Homo sapiens: one gene and its partners. The protein of the gene in region 1 purifies or fractionates together with the protein of each later gene. This does not show direct contact. Each region holds a gene or a part of one and is shown in the gene's direction. Other genes may lie near its edges. The genes, in order: PROS1, HPN, TMEM106A, NOTCH2 and CLGN.

Region 1 (6,217 bases):
AAGAGGGGTTTTAAGGCCATGAAACTGTTTGTGTTGACCAGTGGTTCCAAACACTATCTCATCCAATGTCTGAAAATATATAATGCTCCTTTACTATTCTATAATGAAATGTATCAGTAATATAAACTACCTTCACATATACCCAATCAAAACCAAAATAATTCTGTCATTATTATATTAATATGGATAAATAAAAGGAAAGTAATTTATAAGAAAATAATATGTATTTCAATATATACGTAGTCAACTATAACTATAACACTTGTCAAAGCTTGCTTCTATGCATAAAGTAAAAGCTACAAATGAAGACTAATGCTGGGGTGTTAAATTAGCAACTCAAGTACCATTAAGGGCATACATGGTGTTGCCATTGGTAATATTAATTTTCCAAAGTGGTGGGAAGTTCCTGGTAAAGATATGAACAAAACAAATATCAATCTATCCTTAGTTGTCAAGATTATTACATTCTTGAAAAATGTAATGAATGCTAAAATAGTGCAGCAAATATTTTGTGTCTATGTATGCACAAACTCAGATGATTGTAAGCATGAATATTCCCTACATGAATACCTAGCAGTGATGTTCAAAAGATTTTAAGAATACTTGATATTTTATTATTAGTTCTGCATTACTTATTATTATTAATTCTGCATGACTAGCCTATGTACATAATGCAGATTGTCTATCATCTTGCAGTGCCAGCATGGCCCCTACTCATTGTGACAAATAAAAGTGTTCCTCACCTCCAAATTTTCCAAATGCCCTGGAGTGGAGTCATAGTGTCTCACTTAAAATACTTGCATGGCTACAGGAAAAAGGTCTGGGGCCTGAGCTGTGGGGAGGGGAGGATCCAGCAAAGGAGACTGAGAAGTAGTGGTTAGAGTGTAGAAAGAGAAGCAATCAGGGTCAAGTGTTGTAGGCTAAGTTAAGAAAGTCTGTAAAGGAGAGAATAGTTGTTCACATGCTGCTAATTGGCTATATTAAAGAAGGAGTGTTGACCAACTTTAAATTTGTGTAACTAAATTTATTTTATGTTGGAGGATAGTTTTTCCCTTCCTATCATGGTGTTTTAATATGCTTATTGTTTGGCTTATATTATTGGTTAGTGAGTGAAGAGTTTGCTCTTTGAGTGCTATAGTTTTACTTGAAGTGATTGCAGCAGTGGTTCTTCAAATTGCCTTTGTAGAAGGAATTTTTATTGTTGTTTACCCTTACTTGAAACCTTTTTTAAAAACCCAAACAACTCTCAAAATTGGAAAACTCCAATTTAATTTTATGTATTTTTTTCTTATTGCCTCAATCACTTTTGAATTTTAAAGAAAAAATAATTTGTGTGCAATTAACAGAATAGTGAACATATTGATTTTTCTTACTTTATATTAAGAACTTATGGGCCGGGCGCGGTGGCTCACGCCTGTAATCCCAGCACTTTGGGAGGCCAAGGCGGGTGGATCATGAGGTCAGGAGATCGAGACCATCCTGGCTAACAAGGTGAAACCCCGTCTCTACTAAAAATACAAAAAATTAGCCGGGCGCAGTGGCGGGCGCCTGTAGTCCCAGCTACTCGGGAGGCTGAGGCAGGAGAATGGCGTGAACCCGGGAAGCGGAGCTTGCAGTGAGCCGAGATTGCGCCACTGCAGTCCGCAGTCTGGCCTGGGCGACAGAGCGAGACTCCGTCTCAAAAAAAAAAAAAAAAAAAGAACTTATTTACACTATTGATTCCATGTGCGTATTATCAGACAATTGCAAAATAAGGCCACTTAAATTTTTCCTAAGATAGAATGGCTCACTTAATTGTTAATTTTCTAGCAGCCTGGAATTGAAAGATATATAACTGGATGTTTAAGCTTAACAGAATAGTATTTTTTTTAACTTTAAAATATGGTATGCTTTTAATTTTTGATCGTGCTGCCACCCTAAATGCCTTTTTATCACATTTATCATAATTTGACATTCCAAATGAGTTGTAACAAATTAATAATTACATTAAAATGATTACTTTACAGAAGTATTTTATTGGAATAATAACATAAGTTTTAGATCCCAGTATTTCAAATGACATGTAGTAATACTTGGTTATTTGGTAATTTTTCTTTTTAATTGTAGGTGTCTGTGGAAGAATTAGAACATAGTATTAGCATTAAAATAGCTAAAGAAGCTGTGATGGATATAAATAAACCTGGACCCCTTTTTAAGCCGGAAAATGGATTGCTGGAAACCAAAGTATACTTTGCAGGATTCCCTCGGAAAGTGGAAAGTGAACTCATTAAACCGGTAATGATCCAAGCTTGTATCATTCATCATGGATGAGTTCCTTTTGTCTGTAATAGATTTGAATATGTGTGTTTCTGAGAATCAATAGAAGTTGTTTTGTTAAGCATACTAAGTGTGACAACTTGAAATGATCATGGAAAAATAACATTAGTAACCCTTGAAATTATATTAATGAAATAAAAAAATGACGTAGTGGTTTTGTGCCCATTTAAATCCCCAGCATAAATCATGAAGTGGATTTCTAAAATTCTCAAGTTAACACTTGAGAATGTTAACACTAATGTTAACATTAGTAATGTAATGTTCAGTGTTAACATCATGATAATCCATACTCAGTTGTTAAACATATAAATTCATATATTTAAGTCCAAAATTACACCATTTTGTAAAAGCCAGTCAAAGGACTTTCTCAAGTCTATTTTTAGGACTTAAATGCAAGAGCTAAAGAATAGCACATAAGGTGAAATTTATTGTTAAATATTTACTATCTTACATCCGTCTTTCATTCTCTGGAAATTCGTAGTTACTTTAACTTTTAAAAGATTTCCATTATATGATATTAAGCTTGAATTAATTAACCCATGTTGACATGAGTATACCTGTTGTTTGAAACTGAGAAATTAATACACTTTAAAAGTAAAATAAATTATTCAAAAAGTATCAATCATTTATGAAACGGTTATTACATGTCTTGAGCCTGGCAGGATACTTGATGGAGGCTAAAGAATGCAAACACTTTTGTGTCTGAAGAGACTTAGAGTCTGATTGGCAAGACAAACCCATATTATAAATGCCACTAAAGAAAAACAAGGCCAGGCGTGGTGGTTCACACCTGTAATCCCAGCAATTTGGGAGGCCGAGGCGGGTGGATCACCTGAGGTCAGGAGTTCAAGACCAGCCTGGCCAATGTAGCAAAACCCCATCTCTACTAAAAGTACAAAAATTAGCCAGGCGTGGTGGTGGGCACCTGTAATCCCAGCTACTCAGGAGGCTGAGGCAGGAGAATCGCTTGAACCAGGGAGGCAGAGGTTGCAGTGAGCCAAGATCCTGCCACTGCACTCCAGCAAGACTCCATCTCAATCAAACAAACAAAGAAGATAAACAAGACAACTTAGAGCCCAGGGCCACAGCTAGAAGCAAATATAGAACTTGAAAGCAGAAAAGTTACCACTGGATGATGTAGGAGAGGCAGGTGGGGCTTGAAGTGTTAAAAACCATTAAGATCCCACTGAGGGCTTGTGATAGTATGAGCTTGCTTGTACTGAAAAAGACTGTCCATCTGAAGAATACTTTGAAAAGAAAAACTTAAATAAAATTCAAAATATTTTCAACTATTATCAAAGAAAGGATTTTTTTTCTCTTAATGAAAACCTATACTCATAATCGAGCCACTGTTTAAGTTTAAAATGCACTCCTTGACTTGTATTTTAATTTGTTAGATTAACCCTCGTCTAGATGGATGTATACGAAGCTGGAATTTGATGAAGCAAGGAGCTTCTGGAATAAAGGAAATTATTCAAGAAAAACAAAATAAGCATTGCCTGGTTACTGTGGAGAAGGGCTCCTACTATCCTGGTTCTGGAATTGCTCAATTTCACATAGATTATAGTAAGTGATTTTCCATTTATCTCTATTTTCTCATTAATGAGTAAATTTATTCATTAACAAACAGTAATAATTTATTTGTGAAACATTATTGAGTATCTACTGTGTGCCCACTCTAGTCTTATGCTTATTCATACTATTATATACCTTTTACAAAAATTTTTCAGTGTATTGGGAAAAATATAAAGGCATTTGAATGTGCTTGTGTTGTTATTTCAGGTTTATCAGTACATAGCCTGATTCCTTATGGGTAAATTCAATTGACCTATTTTAAAGTTCACTGATTTCTCACTTGTATGGAGTCTATCAATGAATGCATCAGAAAGATTCATCTTCATTTCTAGCATTTCTATTTGATGCTTTCTTAAAATTTCTACCTCCCTGTTGAAATTCCCTATCTGTTCACACTTGTCTAGTTTATGTACTGAGTTTTCAATGTATTCATCATAATTATTTTAAATTCCCTGTCTCGTAGTTCCAACTGTGTCATATCTGAGTCTCGTCATTTTGTTTGCTTTGTCCCTTGACCAAGTGTTGTTTTTCTTGCATCTTTGTGTACCATGTAATTTTTGGTTTAGATTTGGGCATCTTACGTATAACAGTAGAGACTGAGATAAAGAATATTTGTGTCTGGAAATGAGCACATTTCTTTTGCTAGGCTCTTAGTAATGGGATTGAATCAATCTAGTGAAAAGTTGAGCTTCTTAAGTTTTGTTGGTGCCAGGATTACCCTTAATGCACCACAGGTTTCAGATCTTTTATTTTGTTTTGTTTTGTTTTTGAGATGGAGTCTCACTTTGTCACCCAGGCTGGGGTGCAGTGATGCAATCTTGGCTCACTGCAACCTCTGCCACCTGGATTCAAGTGATTCTTCTGCCTCAGCCTCCTGAGTAGCTAGAACTACAGGCGCCCGCCACCACGCCCGGCTAATTTTTGTATTTTTGTGTTTTTGGCCAGGCTGGTTTTGAACTGCTGATCTCATGATCCACCCCCTTGGCCTCCCAAAGTGCTGGGATTACAGGTGTGAGCCACCGCACCCAGCCTCAGATTTTCAAAATACTACCTTCTGCTTAGAATAAGGGAATGGTTTGGTAGCTAGTTTTTCTTTTTCTTTTCTTTCTTTTTTTCTTTTTTTTTGAGACTGAGTCTCACTCTGTCACCCAGGCTGGAGCTCAGTGCCACAATCTCGGCTCACCGCAACCTCCACCTTGCAGGTTCAAGTGATTCTCATGCCTCAGCCTCCTGAGTAGCTGGAATTACAAGGGTGCGCCACCATGCCCTGCTAATTTTTGTATTTTTGACGAGGTTTTGCCATGTTGGCCAGGCTGGTTTCAAACTCCTGACTTCAGGTGATCTGCTTGCCTTAGCCTCTCTAAGTGCTGGGATTACAGGCTTGAGCCACCGTGCCTGGCCTAGAGAGTTTTTCATCATAGCAGCTCAGTTTTATGTATTCCCTCCATAATACGCCTCAAGAAAATGTCTCTCCCACTTGTGTCTCTCAAGTGTCTTGCCCACCCCTAGCAGAGTGCTCTTGTTACCTGACATTTGCTAACATGGCAGAGAAGATGCGGAGGTTGGGGAAGCATTCTATGTTGTTGTCGTACAAATTCAGTCTTAGGCAGGTGTTGTATCCCTGGGTCTCAGGAGTGTGGAATTTTCACTGTTCCTCTTCCCTGACTCTCATCAGTAGGGGAGATGTCTAGTGATCAGGACTCAATATGTTTTCTTGCTCCTTCTGCATGATAGATAGCTTTTTTTGTTTGTTCTTCCTAATCTGTAGTTGCAATGAGTCTTCATATGTGTCCTAATGACAAGGTTTGCTGCCTTTCTCCTGGCTTGAAAACTTGTGTTGTGTAGAGGAGACCGAGAAGGATCTAGATGGGGCTTTGTGGCTTCCCTGTAGCTGGTGCTGCTTTCAGGACCATATTAAGAGAGAGGCTTTTTCGGATCTCCTTCCCTGCACTCTGTTTTCTCTTGAGTGCATGGTAAGGTCTGTGGAGAAGAGCCTGTGAATGAGCATGAATTGTCTTTGTGTCTGTAATTTCTAGGGCTTCTAAACTCTTACGTCAGCCCCTACATGGAGTTCAGCAATTTGTTTAAATCTTTACCTAAATTATTTTTACCAAATTGCATGGCATTTCCTGTCTGCCCTGGATTAGAAAGTGTTCTCATTCTGGCTTTCCTTGGAAACACCTGTCTTTCTTTAGGTTTCTGGTTAGTTTGTTGCTCTGCGACCTCAGCTCTTTGATAGTTTCAAGAAAAGTCATGATTATGCAGATAATTTGGCTTTTGTTGTTGTAAGGGTGGGAGTGGTGCCCTTTCCACTTTTCTACAGCCT
Region 2 (6,217 bases), on another chromosome or scaffold:
AAAATTTCCATTAGACAGGAAAAATAAGTTCAAGAGATATATTGAACAACATGGTGATTATAGTTAATAACAATATATTATATACTTGAACATTGCTAAAAGATATTTTAAGTGTTCTCACCACACACAAAGGGTAGTGCATGTGTTAATTAGCTTGATTTAGCCGTTCCACAACGTATACATATTTCACATCATCTTGTACACCATCAATGTATATAATTTTGTCAATTAAAATAAATACATATTTTAAGGCCGGGTGCAGTGGCTCACACCTATAATCGCAGCACTTTGGGAGGCCGAGGCAGGCAGATCACCTGAGGTCAGGAGTTTGAGACTAGCCTGGCCAACATGGTGAAACCCCATCTCTACTTAAAATACAAAAAAATTAGCTGGGCATGGTGGTGCATGTCTGTAATCCCAGCCACTCGGGAGGCTGAGGCAGAAGAATCGCTTGAACCCGGGAGGCAGAGGTTGCAGTGAGCTGAGATTGCACCACTGCACACCAGCCTGGACAACAGAGTGAGACTCCGTCTCAAAAAAATAAATAAATAAAAATAAAATAAATACATATATATTTTTGAGATGGAGTCTCACTCTGTCGCCCAAACTGGAGTGCAGTGGCACGATCTTGGCTCACTGCAACCTCTGCTGCCCAGGTTCAAGCAATTCTCCTGCCTCAGCCTCCCGAGTAGCTGGGATTACAGGCACCTGCCATCATGCCTGGCTAATTTTTGTAGTTTTCATAGAGACGAGGTTTCATCATCTTGGCCAGGCTGGTCTTGAACTCCTGACCTTGTGATCCACCCATCTCGGCCTCCCAAATAAATACATATTTTAAAAGATAGAAATCACTCTGGAAGGAGAGTTAATCTGTTTGATATAATAATAATAATATATTAATATTATATTATAACAATATATTAGTATTATATTCTAATAATATATTAATATTATATTATAATAATATATTATTATATTATAACAATATATTAATATTATATTATAACAATATATTAATATTATATTATGTAATAATAATACTACTCCATATAGCTATGGAAAAGTTCATATGAAGAAACCAGGCTATGATCTACAAACTGGCAACAAATTTGTTCTTCTATTTTCCATATGCTGTCTGTGTACGTATAAAGTGAGAGGTCTTTTTATATGAGTTAAGGGTGTGACCAAAGACAAATGGAAAAAGACAAATGACAAACATACTAATAAAGAGCTTCGGTTTCTCCACAAAAAATACAATAATAAAATAAAATGTTATCAGAAATCTCTTGACTCTCCTCCACGTTAGCTCACTTTTTCCCTCAAGAGGGTGAACATGACCCTTAACAGATCCAGCCTCAAGTGCTGGATTCTCTTGGGAACTTGGTTAAATGGTTTTTTTTCTTCCCGAATGTCCAAGTCACCTTCCAGACCTGCAGCTCCTGAGCAGCCAACTTAGGACTTCTAATGGAGAGTGAAGTTCCCCTGGTTCGCGGAGGGGCCGGCCACAGCCTCAAGGCTGCTGTTGATTGGTCCGACCTGAGTCCTTGAGTCTGGCAGAGTGCCATGGTGCTCTGTAATCCCACCTGTAATCCCAGCATTTTAGGAGGCAGAGGCAGGAAGATTGCTTGAGCCTAGGAGTTCAAGACCAGCCTGGGCAACATAGCAAGACCCGTCTCTACAAAACAAAACAAAACAAAACAAACAAACAAAAAAATTAGTCAGGTGTGGTGGTGCACGCCTGTGGTCCTAGCTACTCAGGAGGTTGAGGTAGGAGGATTTCTTGAGTCTGGGAGGTCAAGGCTACAGTGAGCCAAGATCACACCACTACACTCCAGCCTGGGCAACAGAGCGAGACCCTGTCTTTAAAAAAAAAAAGTCCTTGAGTCATGATTCCAGATGCAATCGCAGATGTGGGGGCTGCAACCCTCCGATGGGCTGGGGTTCACGTCTACACCACATGGCTGGAGCACAGGCCAGGAGGGGCTCCGGCTGGGGAAGCATGTGGGGAGCCTGGCTGTGGGACCCAGGCGGCCCCGGGCCCTGTCGCCCTGCAGTGCAGGTCAGCTCTGCGGACGCTCGGCTCATGGTCTTTGACAAGACGGAAGGGACGTGGCGGCTGCTGTGCTCCTCGCGCTCCAACGCCAGGGTAGCCGGACTCAGCTGCGAGGAGATGGGCTTCCTCAGGTACTGGGGGCCCTCGGAGGGGTGGGAGCCGGGAGGGGCTGGGGAGCAGGCCTAACCCCTGCCCCGCCCAGGGCACTGACCCACTCCGAGCTGGACGTGCGAACGGCGGGCGCCAATGGCACGTCGGGCTTCTTCTGTGTGGACGAGGGGAGGCTGCCCCACACCCAGAGGCTGCTGGAGGTCATCTCCGTGTGGTGAGGAGGGCAGCGGGCAGGTGGGGCAACACCTCAGACCCCCAAGGCACTCCCTCTCCCCGTTTTCCTTCCACCTGTCTTAACTGGTCTCTATTTCCTTTCTTTCTGTGTCTCCAATCCCATCTCTCCCAGTGATTGCCCCAGAGGCCGTTTCTTGGCCGCCATCTGCCAAGGTGAGATCCTAAAACTCAGAACCCTCTCCTTTAGGCCCTTGGGGAGGCCACGTCCCCTCAAGCTCCCCAGGATGGGGCCATGTACTTTCAGACCCCCTAGGGCAGGGCCAAGCCTGGGCTCTGGGGACCTGGGCTCCAGTCCCCTGTCGCCGCCCCCTGCTGACCCTTGTCCCACAGACTGTGGCCGCAGGAAGCTGCCCGTGGACCGCATCGTGGGAGGCCGGGACACCAGCTTGGGCCGGTGGCCGTGGCAAGTCAGCCTTCGCTATGATGGAGCACACCTCTGTGGGGGATCCCTGCTCTCCGGGGACTGGGTGCTGACAGCCGCCCACTGCTTCCCGGAGTGAGTGCCCCCCAATGGCGCTGATGATGGGGAGGCAGAGGAGCGGAGAGACAGTGGGGAGGAGGGCGGATTGTGCCCAGGCAGGTGGCCACCCTCCACCCCTTTCCCTGGTAGGCGGAACCGGGTCCTGTCCCGATGGCGAGTGTTTGCCGGTGCCGTGGCCCAGGCCTCTCCCCACGGTCTGCAGCTGGGGGTGCAGGCTGTGGTCTACCACGGGGGCTATCTTCCCTTTCGGGACCCCAACAGCGAGGAGAACAGCAACGATATTGCCCTGGTCCACCTCTCCAGTCCCCTGCCCCTCACAGGTAAGTCTAAGGGCTGAGCCATGGGGCTTGAGGACCCGAGGCCAGGAGGACAGAGGAGGGGACCAGGGGCACAAGGCAATCAACTTATGGCTCAGGCATCCTTGGCAATAAGGGGAATGATCTCGAGGGAGCACAAAGTGGGCCTTAACTATCAATGATCAGTGCAGCCAATTTGGAAAATTTGCCAGCATTTCCCCAAGAAGTATACATAAAGTTACCATTGGACCCAACACTTCCACTCCCAGGACAGGAGGTATATACCTAAGACAAATGGAAACTGTGTCTGCACCAAAACTCGTACATCAGTGTTCATAGCAGCATTATTCATAATAGCCCAAAGATGGAAACAGCCCAAGACTGTTTCATCGGACAAATGCATAAAGAAAATGTGGTATATTGACCGGGCGCGGTGGCTCATGCCTGTAATCCCAGCACTTTGGGAGGCCGAGGTGGGTGGATCACGAGGTCAGGAGTTTGAAACCAGCCTGGCCAACATGGTGAAACTCCATCTCTACTAAAAATACAAAAATTAGCCTGGCCAACATGGTGAAACTCCATCTCTACTAAAAATACAAAAATTAGCCTGGCCAACATGGTGAAACTCCATCTCTACTAAAAATACAAAAATTAGCCTGGCGTGGTGGCACACGCCTGTAATCCCAGCTACTCGGGAGGATGAGGCAGGAGAATCTCTTGAACCCGGGAGGTGGAGATTGCAGTGAGCCGAGATCACACCACTGCACTCCAGCCTGGCTGACAGAGCAAGGCTCTGTCATCTTGAAAATAAATAAATAAATAACAAAAAAAATGTGGTATATCCACACAACGGGAGAATATTGGACCATAGAAATGAATGAGGTACTGATTCATGCTACCACAAGGATGAAACTTGAGAACAGTGCTGAATGAGACAAGCCAGCCGCAAAGGCCACATACTGTAGGATGCCACTTGTATGAAATGTACAAGGCTGGGCACGGTGGCTCACGCCTGTAATCCTGGCACTCTGGGCAGCTGAGATGGGAGGATTGTTTGTGCTCAGGAGTTTAAGACCAGCCTGGGCAACATAGCAAGACCCCATCACTTAAAAAAATGAGCTAGGTGTGGTGACGGATACCTGTAGTTCCAGTTACTCAGGAGGCTAAGGCAGGAGGATCACTTGAGCCCAGGAGTTTGAGGCTGCAGTGGGCTAGGATTGTGCCACTGTACTCCAGCCTGGGTAACAGAGCAAAACCTTGTCTGTTAAAAAAAGAAGAAAGAAAGAAAGAGAAAGAAAAGAAAGGAAGGAAGGAAGAAAAGAAGAAAAGAAAAGGAAAGAAAGAAAAGAAATGTCTAGAATAGGCACATCGGTAGAGATAGAAAGTTGATTGATGGTGGCAGGGTGGGAGGTGGGGATGGGAGATTGGGAGGTGACTGGTGAAGGACACAAGGTTTCTTGTCTGGGTGATGAAAGATTCTAAGTCGATCATGATCATGGTTGCACTTGTCTGTGACTACACAAAAAGCCAGTGACTTGTGCCTTTAAAAGGAATTGTCTAATATGTGAATAGTAGTTCAATCAAGCTGTTACCAAAAAACTAATAAAATGAAAAGAAAATGTGTTAAAAATGAATGAATCAGACTTAGAAAGTAAGTTAGGAGTCATTCCCTCTGCAATTCCCTGGAGTATTCCCTTGGTCTTACTGAGACTCACTTAGGTGCCAACATGTCCTTAACACCTCTCCAACACATACATCTTCCTTTTGGATTAAAAGCAGGCCCTGGGCTTCAGATTTCAGCAGGCTGCAGTGTAATAATAATAATAAAAATAGGCTGGGCATGTAATCCCAGGCCAAGGTGGGGGTATCGCTTGAGCTCAGGAGTTCAAGACTCGCCTGGGCAACATGGCAAAACCCCATCTCTACAAACAAAAAAAATTAGCTGGCTGTGGTGGTGCGCGCCTGTGGTCCCAGCTACTTGGGAGGCGGAGGCAGGAGAATCACCTGATCACCCAGGAGATCAAGGCTGCAGTGAGCCATGATCACACCACTGCATTCCAGCCTGGTTGATAGAGCGAGACCCTGTCTCAGAACATAATAATAATAACGGTGATAATGATGATCATGAAGTAGTAATAGCGAGTAGTATTCGAGTTCATGATTGAGTATTCGAGTATAGCGAGTTCATGATCATGAAGTAGTAAAAGGGAATAAGGGAGTACATGATGAGTGTACACAACACAGTAAAATAATCTGGTAAACATAGCAGTGTGCCAGGCACCATTCCAAATATGTCCTGTGTATGGACTCACTTAGTTCTCACAGCAACCCCAGCACACCCTGGTAAGGAGGGTTCTCTTAAGATCCTGTTTTCCACCCAGGAAAAGGTCCCAACCCAAAGAAGGCAAACAATGCCCCAAATTCGTACAGCTGGTGAACGGCAAAGATTTGTGCCCAGGTGGACTGGCACTGGAATCTGTGCTTGTGGCCCCCACGCTGTGGTGACGGAGAATCCAGGGCCATGTTGGGGTTGGCATTATGTTTATTTTTATGTTTATTTTATTTTTCATGATCTGTGGTACTGGTTTCCCATTGAAGGGAGTGATACATGCTTTTCTTTAAAACCAAACCCTGTCCTGACATGGTGGCTCACGCCTGTAATCCCAGCACTTTGAGAGGCTGAAGCGGGCAGATCACTTGAGGTCGGGAGTTTGAGACCAGCCTGGCCAACGTGGTGAAACCCCATCTCTACTAAAAACACAAAAATTAGCCAGGTGTAGTGGCAGGCACCTGTAGTCTCAGCTACTCTGGAGGCAGAGGCAGGAGAATCACTTGAACCCAGGAGGTGGAGGTTGCAGTGAGCCAAGATCGTTGCCACACCCTTCTCCTTAGTGAAAAGAGTGAGAGAGTTAATATTGAAGTAAGGACGCATCTTTGAGGACAGGTGGACAGGTGGAAGCGGCTGGGATTTCAGACACAGGGCTGAGGGGGTCACAGCATGGGCTTTGGGGTCAGATTCAGATATTTGCCAACTGTGTGATC
Region 3 (5,551 bases), on another chromosome or scaffold:
TTGCTTAGCAAATTCTTCAGCCAGCATCTGGCCTGCCCTCCCATGGCCGAGAATGTAATAAGCAAGGGTTCAGGGTCCCCAGCCTCTGCTTGTTTGGACCTTGATTAGAATGAAAAACAGGCTGGAATTTGGTTAATCTTTACAATATGTGACCTTGGGCTCTTCAGCCTGCATTGCTGAGGAAGAAGAATGTTTTGTCTGTCTCCTGAATGGGGGTCCAGCATGTGCCTGGGCCAAGTGAGTGGAGGTCAGAGTGATAGTGCAGCCATGCTGCTACACTCACCTGAAGGGTGGGAAGGGGTGGGAGTGACATTTTGGGGGCACCTGATGGAAGGAAAGAGTTCTGTGGGGTAAGGAAACTGGGACCTGCAGGCATCTTCTGAGCTGACAGGCTGCTCCATGTGACACGTGGTCCCACGTTCTCTTTTCTTCTCTCTCAGCAAAATCTGTACCTGGCTGGAAATCAAAGTCCACCATGTGCTTTTGCACATCCAGTAAGTAGAGCTTGGAGCTCTGGTATCCCTGCTCTCACTTCTGACTTCATTCTCACTCAGCTACACCTCATGGGCAGAGAGTCTTCCAAGCTGACCCCATGAATCTTTGTTGGCTCTTGGGAATAGCAAGTCTAGCCCCTTTTCTGAGTCTCACCTTGCCTATAAGTTATTAGGGGCAACAGGCATAGGGCTGTCTGGAAGCTGCTGGAAAACAGGTGGGGCAGCTGTCCCAGGTACCTTGGCAGAGTGGGGAGCCAGAGGGAAGGGCAAATGAGGGAGCTCCCCGCTCCCCACCCCCAGACAGTATAATGGGGCCAGAGCTTTCCTTTTCCTCCCAGCCATGGCAACAAGGCCTGCTTCCTCTCCAGGGGCACCCTGACCTGTTCATACCTGAGCCATTCAGAGCAGCTGGTCTTTCAGAGCTATGAATATGTGGACTGCCGAGGAAACGCATCTGTGCCCCACCAGCTGACCCCTCACCCACCATGACCTGTCTGCTGTCCCTGTACTCCAGGCACCTGCAACCCTGGTCTATATCTCCCACAACTCCCTGGTGACTAAGGAAGGACTACAGAGGCTTTGCCAAAGGAGAAGCCCTGCCTCATCACACCCTTACCTCCCACCCCCTCAGCACAGGAAGCTTGCTTTGAAGTTAACTTCATACACACACACTCATATCCTCCAGTTTCCCCCAGATTCTTTCAGGGGCTGCCATCAGATTCTGCCCTTGGTTAGTTTTTTGTTTTTTTTTTGGTAGAGACAGAGTCTCACTGTTGGTCCAGGTTGGTTTTGAACTCCTGGGCTCAAGCGATCCTCCCTTCTTGGCCTCCCAAAGCACTTGGATTACAGATGTGAGCCTGTGCCTGGCTGGTCTTTCTTGAGGAAAATCTGACCTGGCATTTTCTTGAGGCACCTTAGATTCCCTGGAGTGGCACCTGGCCTTTCTGTACTGAGCACCTGGTCAGTCTGAAGGGGGCATTTCACCCCAGCTCCATCAGGGCTGGCTGTCCCGTCTGAATGTGGAGAGAGCTGTAGTTTTATCTGGCTTTTAAAACATGGACCTGCCGGCTGGGCGCAGTGGCTTACACCTGTAATCCCAGTACTTTGGGAGGCCGAAGTGGGTGGATCACTTGAGGGCAGGAGTTCGTGACCAGCCTGGTCAACATGGTGAAACCTTGTCTCTACTAAAAATACAAAAATTAGCTGGGTGTGGTGGCATGCGCCTGTAATCCCAGCTACTCGGGAGGCTGAGGCAGCAGAATCACTTGAAACCGGAAGGCAGAGGTTGCAGTGAGCCAAGATCGTGCAACTGCACTCCAGCCTGGGCAAAAGAGCAAAACTTTGTCTCAAAAAAAGACTCTTTTCAAGTTTTCTACCCTCTGATAAGAAAATTTGGGGATATCCAGTGCCATCTCCAAGGACTTTCAGGGGATCATAGATGCTTTTCTGTGCCTATCTGCTTTGACCATGTGAAAAAGTGATAGTCTGCTTCTCTCTGGTAACTTGTCTGCCACCCATCTGATAGTAAGATTAGCCAAGGCCCTTTAGCCCTCTGTCCTTTCTGGTTATTGACTGTCCCTGGTTCCTAGGAAGACAGAGTTGTTCTCCAGCTAAAGCGTCTCCTCTCTATAAAGTAGTTTTACTATTCTTTTCATAGCAGGAGCCAAAATAGTAGAGGAGGGGAGAGAGGCACCTGGCACTCTGCGGGCCTGCACAGGAAAAACAGAGCCAAAGACAGAATCATTGTATAAGATATTTATTAAAGGAGAGCCTCTAAGTCCACATCCTGAGCCCATGTGAGTGGACACAGGTAGGTAAAACGGTGGGTCCAGCTGCTGTCATCTGAAAGCCTTCAGGAGATGAAGCTATCAGTATCCAGCTGAAGGCTGCTGGGTTCTGTTCCACCACCACCTTAGCACCAGGGCCCTCTCTGGTCCCAGAGGCCTCATCTCTCCTTGGGCTTTGACAATGTGGAGCAGCACATCAGCAGGGACTGGTCTAGACCCTCCCTTTCCTGTCACTTAGCTGGAGCTAAGCTCCAGATAACCCCTAGGTTCCCACTGGCTCCTAGTAGAAATAGTTTCTGTACTTTAGCAGAACAGGAAGGATATTTGTTCATTAAAGGTGGCTTGGTCTTACAGCTGGGTGCAGTGGTATATACCTGTAGTCCCAGCTACTCAGGAAGCTGAGGTGAGAGGATCTCTAGAGCCCAGGAATTCAAGTTTAACATGAGCAGCAACATTAGCAAGACCCCGTTTAAAAAAAAAAAAAGAGCTGGGCGTAATGGCGCACACCTGTAATCCCACCTACTCAGGAGGCTGAGGCAGGAGAATCACTTGAACCTGGGAGGCAGAGGTTGCAGTGAGCCAAGATCGCACCACTGCACTCCAGCCTGGGCAACAAGGGCGAGACTCTGTCTCAAAAAAAAAAAAAAAAAAAGATGGCTGTCTCTTTATCATTCAGACAGAACGATGAACACAGGTGAGCAGGGAAAGCTAATTTTGAAGTAGGATGCATGGAGAGGGAGAAGTGGTGACAGAACTTGGTAACTAGCTGGCTGGGGGAACGAGGGGAAGGAAGGAGACTGCTGTCTCCAAGCTGAGGTCAGGGTGGTGTTGGCAAGAGCGCAAAAGTCCAGGGAAGCCAGGCTGGAGCTGCTGTGTATAGACTGCCAAATGTGAAGTATTTATATTGTATTCAATAAACTATACTTAAGAGTGTTCAAAAAAGTCTCCTGGGAGTGGGAAGGGAGCTAGTGGATACTCCCTATTTCACAAACTTTTCTTTTTTTTTTTTTTTGAGACAGTTTCGCTCTGTTACCCAGGCTAGAGTGCAATGGCATGATCTTGGCACAGTGCAACCTCTGCCTCCTGTGTTCAAGTGATTCTCGTGCCTCAGACTCCCTGAGTAGTTGGGGTTACAGACATGCACCACCACACCAAATTAATTTTTGTATTTTTAGTAGAGACAGTGTTTTATCATGTTAGCCAGGCTGGTCTCAAACTCCTGGCCTCAAGCGATCTGCCCGCCTCGGCCTCCCAGAGTGCTGGGATTACAGGCATGAGCCACTGCACCTGGCAGAAACTGTTTCCTTAATGTTCTAACGGGCAGCAAGGTTTCTTCCCCAGGCCTCTGAGCCACTGATGACATATCCTGCCCTTCTGTTTTCCGTGAGATTGCTCACAGGACCTCACTCTCCCTCTTGCTCCCATTGTGTATCTCTAAAGTCTCTTCCAATTTTACTATTCCTGTTCTGTGCCACCACCATCCCGTTATCTTCCCCAGCTGCTCTCATCAGGAAATTTCGTGGGTTGCACTGAAACGGCCCCTTCAGACCAAAGGCAATGCTATGTAGGCTAAAATGAAATACGCAGCTGATGCCTCGGACGGGGCTTGTGATTGAGGTGACTGAGGCAGCCTTTCTCAGCATGGAGGAAGAAAGGCTTTCCCAGGGCTTGCACCTTCCTGAAGTCTAACACCCAGGGCCCCCAGCCCTACCCACTCCTTCACCTTGGGCTGGTGAACCTCTGGGTTGTCTCTGCTAGATGGAGAGGCTGAGAGCCAGGAAGGGAGAGGGCTGTGGGTTTTAGAAGGCAAGACTCCCTCCCCTTCCCAGGGTCAGGTGTCATGTTCCTGAGGCTATAGCCTCCGTTTCCTCCAAGCTCTTTCGCTCCATCCCTGCCTCCATTGTCCATTTGACAGCTGAGTGCCCACTGTAGGCCAGCCATTGCACTGGGCTTGGAGGTGGGGAGCATCACTGCCTGCCACCACTTTCTGCTGCTGCAGGCCTGCTCTGATGTGATGCGACCCCTCCTTCCCCAGGCTATATCTCAGTAAGCATGGGCTTGGGGGAATGGGTGATGGCTCCAGTGACAGTCATAAACTGAAGCCCCCCACAGACTTATCACTGCTGAATGAGGGCAGGTAGTGATAGTAGTAGGAGTTGCATACTTGGGGGGGACCCAAGACCCAGTTCTCCCATTGGCTTTGCCTAGAGAAGCATAAACTTGCCTTCCACTCTCTTTCCACCCTCTCCATCCCCTTCGTGAGTCCTCCTGCCCTCTTCCTCTCATCCCTGTCTCATAAAGCTGTCCGGTCCCGTGATTCTTCCCAGGAAAAAAATTACATTTTATTCCTGGCAGCCTCCTCTTCTAGAGTGGGTGGCTTTTGGAGTGGAGATATTGCTGGATGCTGAGAAGATGTGGTTGCTCATCTGCATTTTGGGGATGGCCATGGGGTCCTGGGTTCAATCTCTGGATCACCACTGCTGTATGTAATTGGTAGACTGAGAAGAGGGAGAGACAGGAAACAAAACAAGTTAGCAGCTTCTGGTTTCAGAACATTGTGTGAAATCCCTTGAGTCCAGAGGAATCAAAGTGAAATGTAGCAGCCCACTCTTCATCCTAGAAGTGCTAGCATCAGTTTCTTTCATCTGTTGCACCTCTGTCAGAGACACCTTTCCAATGCCTTGCACAATTGCACAATTATATATTCTTGTTAAGAGTTGCCATCCAGGCCAGGCGTGGTGGCTCACACCTGTAATCCCAGCACTTTGGGAGGCCAAGACGGGTAGATCTTTTGAGACCAGCCTGGCCAACATAGCAAAACCCCATCTCTACTAATAATATAAAAATTAGCTGGGCGTGGTGGTACATGCCTGTAATCCCAGCTACTCGGGAGGCTGAGGCAGGAGAATCATTTGAACCCGGGAAGTGGAGGTTGCAGGTGGAGTGCAGCTGAGATCCAGCCTGGGTAACAGAGTGAGACTGTGTCTCAAAAAAAAAGAAAAAGGTTGCCATCCTGAGTTTGATAGCCTACAATGAGCTGGACTCCAAGCTAAGTGCTTTTAATGCTCTTTCCTCTGTCTGTCTGTCTGTCTATCTCACTCTTTTACCCAGGCTGGAGTGCAGTGGTGTCATCCTGGCTCACTGCAACCTCCACCTCCAGGGGTCAAGTGATTCTCCTGCCTCAGTCTCCCGAATAGCTGGGACTACAGATGCGCCCTACCACACCTGGCTAATTTTTTGTATTTTTAGTAGAGATGGCATCTCAGCATG
Region 4 (6,217 bases), on another chromosome or scaffold:
CAAAAAAGAAATAGTCCATTGTGAACATAATAGCTATTGAGGCAATGTGGAACAGAATAAGTATGAATAATCTGTCTACAGCCTCGTATTGGCCAAACTGCACTTTGAAAGCCAAAGCATCAAAACTGGCTCCTGTTTCTTTCATTGCCCCTGAGGCTTTTTTCTCTGGAAACACAAGCATTTGCAAAGTAAGGGGGAAGCAGGAGAAGGAAGGAATGGAGACCACTTTGAAGTAGTATCCCACAGCCAGGAAGTAGTGTTTGTGCATTTTCCACATTTGTGAATGAAAAAAAAAAAATCCCTTGAATACATTGAGCACAGTTATTGTGGGATGCTGTTGCAGAGATAAACAGCAAGGGACTGGTGGTCCACCAAGCTGTGTCCATGTGGTGGCTGCTCTTGGTTAGCGGCTGCTGCTGTGATTTGAAGAGACAAACATTTATACCTCTTGCTGCTTGATCTCGTTGGCCAAAAACATTACTATTTTTATTTCATTTTTAAAGCTACCTCTTCTTTCCCAAGTGACCACCGGCCAAATGGGGCCTATCTCCTGCTGTTGGCCAGGAGTCCCAGCTGTGCCCTGCGTCTCCTCTGTGGTTCCAGTTGCCTCGTTCTTTATCTTGGAGCAGTGGCCCCCAGGGGCCTTCCGTTTTAGAACTATTCCTAGAGGAAACTAACTCTAGGAAAATTAAGCTGTGTTTTAAGGAATACGAGTTAGGTTACAGAAAGGCCAAAAAGTGATTGAAATGAGGTATCACAGATGAAAATTCTCTATACCGCAAATCACCATTTAAATGTATTGGCCTGGTGTAGCCTCTCCTATGAAGTAGATAACATTAACAAAATGCAGTGAATAGTTTTTCAACTGTTTTTTTGCAACTTATGAAAGCTAAAATGACTTCAAAAAGCTGAAGTGTGATTTCTCTTTTTTTGATGGGATTTAAGTCACTTTTCTCACCCACCCTGTTGTGTGAGTTGGTACTTACTGTGTAGGCAAGACAGAGTAAGGGACTGGCCTGAGCTGGTGACAGGCCAATCATGTTGAGATGCAGTGAGTGTTTTCTTTCTATGCTCAGATTACCACAGGCCTAGAACTGAACTCTCTCACACTTGCTTCACCTATGGCTAGTTCCCATCCCAGCAAAGTTTGTTGAGTAACTTGCAGTGACTACTTCTGCCTTTTAAAACCTTTTTTATTTTTTATTTTCTGAGGCCGGCACTGTGAAACCTTCGTCGATGTGTGTCCCCAGATGCCCTGCCTGAATGGAGGGACTTGTGCTGTGGCCAGTAACATGCCTGATGGTTTCATTTGCCGTTGTCCCCCGGTAAGTGCCCTGTTGCTCATCTAAGAAGGGGCATTGTCTCTTCCATACAATCTGTGAACAGAACTGAGATTAAACCTGGTTTTACCAATCTTCGAAATGGGAAGATTTCTCAATTTTAGCTCTTTCAGAGGAAAGTGCTTGGGTTTTTCCATTTAAAGCTGTTTACAAGTGACAAAACAAAACAAAAACAAATAAAAGCTGTTTAGACACTCCCAGAAACAGTGAGCTTCCCAATCCATGACTGTCAGTCTTAAGAAAAACTAAGGGAAAACCACAAAAAGTGGTGGAGTGCCCCCTTGAAAATAGGGCTGATGTGTGGGGCTTCTTGGCCCCAGGCTGGAGGGTAATCTCACTGCCCAGATTGGGCCAGAGTTGGTGGAAATGCTGCTCTTACATTCTTTAGCAGGAACCATTTGGAAGCAAGTTGTCTCTTAAAGTAGAGGGAAGCTCAATTTTAGCTATTTGCTATACCCATTCTTTTATCACTGCCAGAGGTTGAAACCTTCCCAAAACAAGAGATCCCTATGCCTCGGGAGATACCAAAAGGAAACCTGTCTAGTAACCTTGGCTTGGGCTGAACGGGAAGTACAGAAGGGAGTGAGATGTGGAGGTTTTCTAGAAACCTCAAACTTCCAATATGACTGTTTTCCTACCAATGCCATTTTTATTTCCTCACTGATTTCCACAGGGATTTTCCGGGGCAAGGTGCCAGAGCAGCTGTGGACAAGTGAAATGTAGGAAGGGGGAGCAGTGTGTGCACACCGCCTCTGGACCCCGCTGCTTCTGCCCCAGTCCCCGGGACTGCGAGTCAGGCTGTGCCAGTAGCCCCTGCCAGCACGGGGGCAGCTGCCACCCTCAGCGCCAGCCTCCTTATTACTCCTGCCAGTGTGCCCCACCATTCTCGGGTAGCCGCTGTGAACTCTACACGGCACCCCCCAGCACCCCTCCTGCCACCTGTCTGAGCCAGTATTGTGCCGACAAAGCTCGGGATGGCGTCTGTGATGAGGCCTGCAACAGCCATGCCTGCCAGTGGGATGGGGGTGACTGTTCTCTCACCATGGAGAACCCCTGGGCCAACTGCTCCTCCCCACTTCCCTGCTGGGATTATATCAACAACCAGTGTGATGAGCTGTGCAACACGGTCGAGTGCCTGTTTGACAACTTTGAATGCCAGGGGAACAGCAAGACATGCAAGTAAGGGCTTCACGTTTTCCAGAACTGAAGGGGACTGTCACTAACACACTTCAGTTTCTCGTTCTTGCTCCTAACCACTCCAGTGCTTCAGCCTAAGCTGCCTCTGCTTTTCAGATGGTGCCAGCCTTGTCCCATCGCACACTGCCCTGTGCTCTCCCTTGCTGACAATGGGCCAGGAATGCTCATTGCATAATGACCCTCTCTCTCTGCCTATCTTTGCCTTCTCACCTGCTGCCTTCGTGACCTCCTGGGGGATATAACTTTTGGAAGTGGTGTTTCCCACTTCAAGCAGCCTCTCACATAACCTGCCTGCAGGATGGATGGAAAGGTCTGTATCTCTCTCTTCACCCCATTCCTTTCCCTAAGACTGTTTTTCCCCATCTAGATTTATCAGGAAGCATGAATTAGATTAAGTCTGTGAACCCTCCCGGTCTTAATTGTATAGGATGCTCTATGGTTTACTTAGGAACTTTCCTATTAACTAGCCATTCCATATAATTTAATCCCAATTAATTCTCAGCAACTCACGAGGCATAGGTATTACTAACATTCTTTCATAGGTGAGAGAACTTAGGCCCAAGGGTTAAAGAACTTGCCAAAGCAAGTTGTTTCTTTGACTCCTAATCTTCTGATTGAGCTAGCATGAAAAGTTGTACCAAATAGTATAAATATCAAGGGGTAGGGGATGAGGAGAGGAGAGTATAGATGGAATAGTTTGTACATCATTTAGGTTTGGGGGTTCTAATTCCTTTTCCAAATATTGAAAGAGCCTGTACAAGTAATATCTGGTGTGCTATAAGGACATACCCATCTGCCTTTACCTTCTGTAGTTGGGATTCACTCTTGAAAGGGAAAGAAATGGGTCATGTTAATATTGTTCTCTGTATGGCAACTCTCAATGGTTCAGGGCCTTGTATCAAGTTTCTAGAGGCATCTTTCACTTCCTAAAGCCCGTTGTTACCTTACTGGGGGCAATGGATTTCTCTAAAGTAGAGGAAGCATGAACCAGGTTGACTTTTGTTTCAGATATGCAGCTTTGTTTGAAAACCTGACTTAACAGGCTTGTAAACTGCCTGGGAGCCCCTAAGCTCCTGCAGCATAGTGAGTACAATGTTCTTCATTTAGGAAGTACTCAACAAGGATGAGTGGCATAGGCATCAGGGATAGGAGATGCAAAGAAGGTTTTGTGGGGCATTTGGGTCCTGGGTGTGGGCCACAGAAAATGGGTAGGAAAATCCACAGTAGTTCCAAATGAAAAAGCAAATAGAGCTCCAGTCTAATCTGAGCTCTTTTGCCTGTTCTCTGCTTCCCCTTACCTAGGTATGACAAATACTGTGCAGACCACTTCAAAGACAACCACTGTGACCAGGGGTGCAACAGTGAGGAGTGTGGTTGGGATGGGCTGGACTGTGCTGCTGACCAACCTGAGAACCTGGCAGAAGGTACCCTGGTTATTGTGGTATTGATGCCACCTGAACAACTGCTCCAGGATGCTCGCAGCTTCTTGCGGGCACTGGGTACCCTGCTCCACACCAACCTGCGCATTAAGCGGGACTCCCAGGGGGAACTCATGGTGTACCCCTATTATGGTGAGAAGTCAGCTGCTATGAAGAAACAGAGGATGACACGCAGATCCCTTCCTGGTGAACAAGAACAGGAGGTGGCTGGGTAGGTGTTTGGTTTCTGAACTTCAAGGCTAATTTTATGAAGCCTAGCACTTTGACATATAGCACAAGTCATAACTCAACCTATAGAAATGCAAAGATCAGAAAAATAGAATGGCCCACCACTTAAGATAAACCCGTTACCCCAGTACTTACGTTTAAATGTAAAGATATGCCTTCGTCTTGGCTGAAAAGTGGGCAGGGGTACACAGGAGGCAGAATGTCTGGAAGGCCTCCTCAGATGCCAGAATCCATAACCTTTTGCCAGAGTTGCCTCAAATCCCTTTATTAGTGACATTCCTTTTTACATTAATCATTGCCTTATTGTTAAGGCCCTTCTTTAGAATATATGTCTCTTTGACACAGGTAATGATCTTCAGTTGCTCTGTCATTCACACCTCACTCTTTGTTGGTATATTGTCAAACTTTCAACCCTCCAGCTAGCTGAGATACCAATGCAGAGACAAAGGAAAATAAGGACTAAAAACACACAGGGATGTATGTTTAGAGTAGCACCAAGTACCACTGAGTAGGTATGAAAGAGTGGAAGAAGACCACTGAAACCTTCGGGAGGAAAGCACAGCTTCTCACTTTGTCATGCATTGCCTCAGCCAGAAGGCTTTGGTCAGCCAGACTAAGGAAGGTGGGACATCCTCTATGTGGGAATTAGTGTTTAAGATCTCAAGGGACAGTATTCTAATTCCTGAGATATGTCTTAAGGCAGCATCCCAGAGGTGGGGACCTGATGCTGAAGGGGAGGAAGGGAGGCTCCTGTCACCCTTTATGACATGTTCTGCCTGACCTGCACTCTTCTGTTTTACCCCCATCTCTCCTCCTCCGCTTCTCCCTTGGCATCCCACAGCTCTAAAGTCTTTCTGGAAATTGACAACCGCCAGTGTGTTCAAGACTCAGACCACTGCTTCAAGAACACGGATGCAGCAGCAGCTCTCCTGGCCTCTCACGCCATACAGGGGACCCTGTCATACCCTCTTGTGTCTGTCGTCAGTGAGTGGCACTGGTGTAAAGGGGAAAGGTGGCGGGGGAAGAGTGTCAATTGGGGGAACAATTTTCATTATGTAGCCCTCTATTTTTTCAGGACTGTTGAGGTCAAAGTTGCCCTCTAAATGAATCTAATGCTGACATTGAGAGGTTAATGTTTTATTCAGCACTTTCCCTGTCTCTGTGGACTTTCAGGTGAATCCCTGACTCCAGAACGCACTCAGCTCCTCTATCTCCTTGCTGTTGCTGTTGTCATCATTCTGTTTATTATTCTGCTGGGGGTAATCATGGCAAAACGAAAGCGTAAGCATGGCTCTCTCTGGCTGCCTGAAGGTTTCACTCTTCGCCGAGATGCAAGCAATCACAAGCGTCGTGAGCCAGTGGGACAGGATGCTGTGGGGCTGAAGTAAGAGGCATTGCCAATAAGCCACTATTCACAGTATAAGTAGGGATGACTAGAAAAGCATATCTTGTTGAATCATGATTTTAAATTCTAAGCTCTGGGCATTTACTCACATTGACCATGATTCTAAATGCCTTGTGAGTGACTGAAACCACAGTCAGAGCGTGGGTGCATCTATTCTGTGTATATTATCACAATGCCGCCCAGCTTCTGTGTTGAGGTGCCCTTTTGTTGTAAGCTCACGATCAATGGGAAGGGAAAGGATGAATGCCAAGGGAATGTCACCAAAAATACTGCCCATCTTCTCTGGGCCAAGACCCTGCAAAATTGTAATATAGCCACGGGAGTGTGTCATGGTGGAAAGTGTTGAAAACCACTGTATTAGTTTATGACTGCCATTCTTATTTTTTCTTTTTATAATCATATTAGAAATCTCTCAGTGCAAGTCTCAGAAGCTAACCTAATTGGTACTGGAACAAGTGAACACTGGGTCGATGATGAAGGGCCCCAGCCAAAGAAAGTAAAGGTGAGGTGGCCATGGTAGAACCACCATTGTCAGCCATTATCTGGTTACATTTCAAATTTCTGTCCTTTAGCTCCAGAGTGTCCTGAATGGGAGTAAAGAGTGATAG
Region 5 (6,217 bases), on another chromosome or scaffold:
GTAATAAATTCCCACATATATGTTCAAATTTTTTTTATAAAAGTGCCAAGACCATTTTGTGAGAAAGGACAGTCTTCTCATGAGATGATATTGGGGAAACTGGCTATCCACATGCAAAAGAATGAGGTTGTAACCTTACCTTAAATCATAGACAAAAATTAACTCGAAATGGATTGAAGACTTAAACATAAGAAAACTATAAAACTGTTAAAAGAAAACATGGAAAGCTTCATGACATTGAATTTGCCAGTAATTTTTATATGACACCAAAAGCACAGACAACAAAAGAAAAAATATATAAATTGGAAAACTCAAAATTAAAAAGTTCTGTGCATCAAAGAACACAACAAAATGAAAAACCTATGCAATGGGAGAAAATATTTGCCAATCATATATTTGATAAGGGGTCAGTATCCAGAATTTGTAGGAACTCCTACAACTCAAAACAAAAACAAAACCTGATTTTTTAAATAGGCAAAGGACTTGAATAGACATGTTTCCCTTGAAGATGTATAAATAGCCAACAAGCACATGAAAAGATACTCAGTATCACTAATCATCAGGGAAATGCAAATCAAACCACAATATGATACTACGCCATATTAGGACCTATTACAATGACTACTATTTAAAAAAACATAATTTTGAACAAATGTTGGCAAGGATGTGTAGAAATTGGAACCCTTGTGCCTTGTTGGTGGGAAGGTAAAATGGTAAAGCCACTGTGGAAAACAGTATGAGGATTCAAAAAAAAATAGAATTATCATATGACCAAGCAATTCAACTTATGGGTATATACTCAAAAGAATTGAAAACAAGGTCTCGAAGAGTTATTTGTATACCCATATTCATTGTAGGATTATTCACAACAGCCAACAGGTGGAAGCAACCCAAGTGTCCACTGACAGATGAATGTATAAACAAAATGTGGTGTATACACACAATGGAATACTGTCCAGCTTTAAAAAGGAAGGAAATTTGATACATGCTACAACATGGATGAAGCTTCAGGGCATTATGCTAAGTAAAATAAGCCAGTTACAGAAAGACCAATACTGTATGATTCCACTTATATGCAGTACCTAGAGTAGTCAAAATCATAGAGATAGATATTAGAAAGATGGTTTCCAGGGGCTGGAGGGAAGGGTAGTGGGGAGTTGTTAAAAGTGTATAGCGTTTTAGTTTTAGAGCATGAAGAAAGTTTTGGAAATTAGTTGTACAACAATGAGAATGTTTTACCACGTGATTTAAAACAATTTTAAATGCATAAATTAACTACTTCATTTTCTTGTAGTATTACCCCAGCATCTGACCTCTCAGAGTTTCAGTACAGACTTGTCAATAGCATACCTCTCTCTAAGAAATGAGATGTCACAAACCTCATAGTTTTGTTTGGAACTTAATAACATGTTGGCACCATTGTGAGACAGATTTCAAGACTGTGAACTTCAGTATCTAATTCTCAATTGTCAGCTGGTGCAGCACTGAAGAATGATAGGATACTGCAGCATTACGCAGAAAGTATTAAGTCTGTATTTCTGATTTTTTTTTTTAAAAAAAAGAACAAATAAAAACAATAGAACTGCATTGTCTACAGAATGCCTTCTAACCAATTGCAGTTCTTTAAAACTCTCTGTTTTTGTTTTGTTGATTAGGAATAGTACCTACGCTATTCATGTCCTGGGCTGTAAAGATTAAATTAGCTAGTTCTTTGATGTAAATATAAGATCATAGAATTTTAAAGAAGAAACAAACTTTCAAGATAAAGTGTTTTCTGAACTGTTTTCTGAAGCATTGGCAACTATTTCTAAGGAAAAGTCAGGAAAAACTATAATATAGAATACAAATAAAACTGGGGTGCTCTGGTTGAGTTAAGGGTAGAGTTCCAGATAGAGCACTACCTGCTTGGCTTCCTCTTAACTCTTTCTTGGCAGCCCAGTACACCAGAGTTCAAACAAAGCACTTAGAATGTTTTTTTTTCAACAAATTAATTGTTTGGAACCTAAAGTGTACATTCATTTGAAAGAGAGGATATGGGTCTAAAGTTATATTAATGTTCATTATTAGTAGTATTATTTTATGTGTTTTTATTTTGCTCAAAAATGATTAATAGCCAGTCAAGCAAAGTGCCTTTTACTATGTAACATGGAAGGCCCTTAGGCTTTTAGAACAATGAAGCTTTTAGAGTTCACAATTAATAAGCAATTTGCAGATATACAAATTTCTGTGCCAATAACTAGGAAATTAAGGAAATAAGCCTATTTCATTGTGTCAAATTGATCCCTTTACATTTACTTCCTATCCCAGTTATACCTCTTTTGTGATTTAGAGAGATCAAATCCTAGTTAATGACAGCACCCATCATTTTTGTCTTTGTCCATAAATATATAAGTAATTATGTAATTGTGGAATTATAGGAATTATATATGCAAAAGAACTTTCTCCATAGCAGTCTACCTGATTACAATAAGCCCTATATTTGTTTGATCTTTTGAATGTGCTTTGATTTTAGTAAAACTCTACCACATTAAATTTGTGATAAAAAAATTTTTGTATCTTTTCTCAGCATTTATATATAAATGTATTTTGGTTTTATAATTATAAAATTTCCATTTTTATGTTTATATACACTTAAGCAACATTATAATAAAAACAATTTCAGTGAACATTTAGGAATCATGATACTTTTAAAGAGGTCTACATATTATTTGTGTTTGATAACTACTATCATCTTTATCTTTAGATTTTTTTTTTATTATACTTTAAGTTTTAGGGTACATGTGCACATTGTGCAGGTTAGTTACATATGTATACATGTGCCATACTGGTGCACTGCACCCACTAACTCGTTATCTAGCATTAGGTATAACTCCCAATGCTATCCCTCCCCCGTTCCCCCACCCCACAACAGTCCCCAGAGTGTGATATTCCCCTTCCTGTGTCCATGTGATCTCATTGTTCAATTCCCACCTATGAGTGAGAATATGCGGTGTTTGGTTTTTTGTTCTTGCAATAGTTTACTGAGAATGATGTTTTCCAATTTCATCCATGTCCCTACAAAGGACATGAACTCATCATTTTTTATGGCTGCATAGTATTCCATGGTGTATATGTGCCATATTTTCTTAATCCATTCTATCATTGTTGGACATTTGGGTTGGTTCCAAGTCTTTGCTATTGTGAATAATGCCGCAATAAACATACGTGTGCATGAGTCTTTATAGCAGCATGATTTAGAGTCCTTTGGGTATATACCCAGTAATGGGATGGCTGGGTCAAATGGTATTTCCAGTTCTAGATCCCTGAGGAATCGCCACACTGACTTCCACAATGGTTGAACTAGTTTACAGTCCCACCAACAGTGTAAAAGTGTTCCTATTTCTCCACATCCTCTCCAGCACCTGTTGTTTCCTGACTTTTTAATGATTGCCATTCTAACTGGTGTAAGATGGTATCTCATTGTGGTTTTGATTTGCATTTCTCTGATGGCCAGTGATGATGAGCATTTTTTCATGTGTTTTTTGGCTGCATAAATATCTTCTTTTGAGAAGTGTCTGTTCATGTCCTTCGCCCACTTTTTGATGGGGTTGTTTGTTTTTTTCTTGTAAATTTGTTTGAGTTCATTGTAGATTCTGGATATTAGCCCTTTGTCAGATGAGTAGGTTGTGAAAATTTTCTCCCATTTTGTAGGTTGCTTGTTCACTCTGATGGTAGTTTCTTTTGCTGTGCAGAAGCTCTTTAGTTTAATTAGATCCCATTTGTCAATTTTGGCTTTTGTTGCCATTGCTTTTGGTGTTTTAGACATGAAGTCCTTGCCCATGCCTATGTCCTGAATGGTAATGCCTAGGTTTTCTTCTAGGGTTTTTATGGTTTTAGGTCTAACGTTTAAGCCTTTAATCCATCTTGAATTAATTTTTGTGTAAGGTGTAAGGAAGGGATCCAGTTTCAGCTTTCTACATATGGCTAGCCAGTTTTCCCAGCACCATTTATTAAATAGGGAATCCTTTCCCCATTGCTTGTTTTTCTCAGGTTTGTCAAAGATCAGATAGTTGTAGATATGCGGCGTTATTTCTGAGGGCTCTGTTTTGTTCCATTGATCCATATCTCTGTTTTGGTACCAGTACCATGCTGTTTTGGTTACTGTAGCCTTGTAGTATAGTTTGAAGTCAGGTAGTGTGATGCCTCCAGCTTTATTCTTTTGGCTTAGGATTGACTTGGCGATGCGGGCTCTTTTTTGGTTCCATATGAACTTTAAAGTAGTTTTTTCCAATTCTGTGAAGAAAGGCATTGGTAGCTTGATGGGGATGGCATTGAATCTGTAAATTACCTTGGGCAGTATGGCCATTTTCACGATATTGATTCTTCCTACCCATGAGCATGGAATGTTCTTCCATTTGTTTGTGTCCTCTTTTATTTCATTGAGGAGTGGTTTGTAGTTCTCCTTGAAGAGGTCCTTCACATCCCTTGTAAGTTGGATTCCTAGGTATTTTATTCTCTTTGAAGCAATTGTGAATGGGAGTTCACTCATGATTTGGCTCTCTGTTTGTCTGTTGCTGGTGTATAAGAATGCTTGTGATTTTTGTACATTGATTTTGTATCCTGAGACTTTGCTGAAGTTGCTTATCAGCTTAAGGAGATTTTGGGCTGAGACAATGGGGTTTTCTAGATATACAATCATGTCGTCTGCAAACAGGGACAATTTGACTTCCTCTTTTCCTAATTGAATACCATTTATTTCCTTCTCCTGCCTAATTGCCCTGGCCAGAACTTCCAACACTATGTTGAATAGGAGTGGTGAGAGAGGGCATCCCTGTCTTGTGCCAGTTTTCAAAGGGAATGCTTCCAGTTTTTGCCCATTCAGTATGATATTGGCTGTGGGTTTGTCATAGATAGCTCTTATTATTTTGAGATATGTCCCATCAATACCTAATTTATTGAGAGTTTTTAGCATGAAGGGTTGTTGAATTTTGTCAAAGGCTTTTTCTGCATCTATTGAGATAATCATGTGGTTTTTGTCTTTGGCTCTGTTTATATGCTGGATTACATTTATTGATTTGCGTATATTGAACCAGCCTTGCATCCCAGGGATGAAGCCCACTTCATCATGGTGGATAAGCTTTTTGATGTGCTGCTGGATTCAGTTTGGCAGTATTTTATTGAGGATTTTTGCATCAATGTTCATCAAGGATATTGGTCTAAAATTCTCTTTTTTTGTTGTGTCTCTGCCTGGCTTTGGTATCAGAATGATGCTGGCCTCATAAAATGAGTTAGGGAGGATTCCCTCTTTTTCTATTGATTGGAATAGTTTCAGAAGGAATGGTAGCAGTTCCTCCTTGTACCTCTCGTAGAATTCAGCTGTGAATCCATCTGGTCCTGGACTCTTTTTGGTTGGTAAGCTATTGATTATTGCCACAATTTCAGATCCTGTTATTGCTCTATTCAGAGATTCAACTTCTTCCTGGTTTAGTCTTGGGAGAGTGTATGTGTCGAGGAATGTATCCATTTCTTCTAGATTTTCTAGTTTATTTGTGTAGAGGTGTTTGTAGTATTCTCTGATGGTAGTTTGTATTTGTGGGATCAGTGGTGATATCCCCTTTATCATTTTTTGCTGCGTCTATTAGATTCTTCTCTCTTTTTTTCTTTATTAGTCTTGCTAGCAGTCTATCAATTTTGTTGATCCTTTCAAAAAACCAGCTCCTGGATTCATTAATTTTTTGAAGGGTTTTTTGTGTCTCTATTTCCTTCAGTTCTGCTCTGATTTTAGTTATTTCTTGCCTTCTGCTAGCTTTTGAATGTGTTTGCTCTTGCTTTTCTAGTTCTTTTAATTGTGATGTTAGGGTGTCAATTTTGGATCTTTCCTGCTTTCTCTTGTGGGCATTTAGTGCTATAAATTTCCCTCTACACACTGCTTTGAATGCGTCCCAGAGATTCTGGTATGTTGTGTCTTTGTTCTCGTTGGTTTCAAAGAACATCTTTATTTCTGCCTTCATTTCGTTATGTACCCAGTAGTCATTCAGGAGCAGGTTGTTCAGTTTCCTTGTAGTTGAGCGGTTTTGAGTGAGATTCTTAATCCTGAGTTCTAGTTTGATTGCACTGTGGTCTGAGAGATAGTTTGTTATAATTTCTGTTCTTTTACATTTGCTGAGGAGAGCTTTACTTCCAAGTATGTGGTCAATTTTGGAATAGGTGTGGTGTGGTGCTGAAAAAAATGTATATT

Evidence for each region.
Region 2: the proteins of PROS1 (region 1) and HPN purify together in Homo sapiens (co-immunoprecipitation; one large-scale study listed by IntAct). This does not show direct contact.
Region 3: the proteins of PROS1 (region 1) and TMEM106A purify together in Homo sapiens (co-immunoprecipitation; one large-scale study listed by IntAct). This does not show direct contact.
Region 4: the proteins of PROS1 (region 1) and NOTCH2 purify together in Homo sapiens (co-immunoprecipitation; one large-scale study listed by IntAct). This does not show direct contact.
Region 5: the proteins of PROS1 (region 1) and CLGN purify together in Homo sapiens (co-immunoprecipitation; one large-scale study listed by IntAct). This does not show direct contact.

The regions. Positions count from the first base shown.
Region 1 is NC_000003.12:93,882,393-93,888,609, reverse strand, and holds part of PROS1 (vitamin K-dependent protein S isoform 2 preproprotein), read left to right. Parts: intron 1-2,106; coding exon 2,107-2,274; intron 2,275-3,713; coding exon 3,714-3,882; intron 3,883-6,217. UniProt on the Homo sapiens protein: Anticoagulant plasma protein; it is a cofactor to activated protein C in the degradation of coagulation factors Va and VIIIa. It helps to prevent coagulation and stimulating fibrinolysis.
Region 2 is NC_000019.10:35,057,619-35,063,835, forward strand, and holds part of HPN (serine protease hepsin precursor), read left to right. Parts: intron 1-1,440; exon of another isoform or gene 1,441-2,054; coding exon 2,055-2,184; intron 2,185-2,255; coding exon 2,256-2,378; intron 2,379-2,510; coding exon 2,511-2,551; intron 2,552-2,728; coding exon 2,729-2,894; intron 2,895-3,008; coding exon 3,009-3,199; intron 3,200-6,217. UniProt on the Homo sapiens protein: Serine protease that cleaves extracellular substrates, and contributes to the proteolytic processing of growth factors, such as HGF and MST1/HGFL. Plays a role in cell growth and maintenance of cell morphology.
Region 3 is NC_000017.11:43,216,819-43,222,369, forward strand, and holds the end of TMEM106A (transmembrane protein 106A), read left to right. Parts: intron 1-440; coding exon 441-494; intron 495-862; coding exon 863-983; 3' UTR 984-3,223; downstream 3,224-5,551. Other genes in the region: CCDC200 (coiled-coil domain-containing protein 200), read right to left, coding at 4,753-4,779. UniProt on the Homo sapiens protein: Activates macrophages and polarizes them into M1-like macrophages through the activation of the MAPK and NF-kappaB signaling pathway.
Region 4 is NC_000001.11:119,921,607-119,927,823, reverse strand, and holds part of NOTCH2 (neurogenic locus notch homolog protein 2 isoform 1 preproprotein), read left to right. Parts: intron 1-1,212; coding exon 1,213-1,325; intron 1,326-2,013; coding exon 2,014-2,519; intron 2,520-3,839; coding exon 3,840-4,187; intron 4,188-5,045; coding exon 5,046-5,188; intron 5,189-5,377; coding exon 5,378-5,588; intron 5,589-6,014; coding exon 6,015-6,111; intron 6,112-6,217. UniProt on the Homo sapiens protein: Functions as a receptor for membrane-bound ligands Jagged-1 (JAG1), Jagged-2 (JAG2) and Delta-1 (DLL1) to regulate cell-fate determination.
Region 5 is NC_000004.12:140,415,891-140,422,107, reverse strand, and holds part of CLGN (calmegin precursor), read left to right. Parts: intron 1-6,217. UniProt on the Homo sapiens protein: Functions during spermatogenesis as a chaperone for a range of client proteins that are important for sperm adhesion onto the egg zona pellucida and for subsequent penetration of the zona pellucida.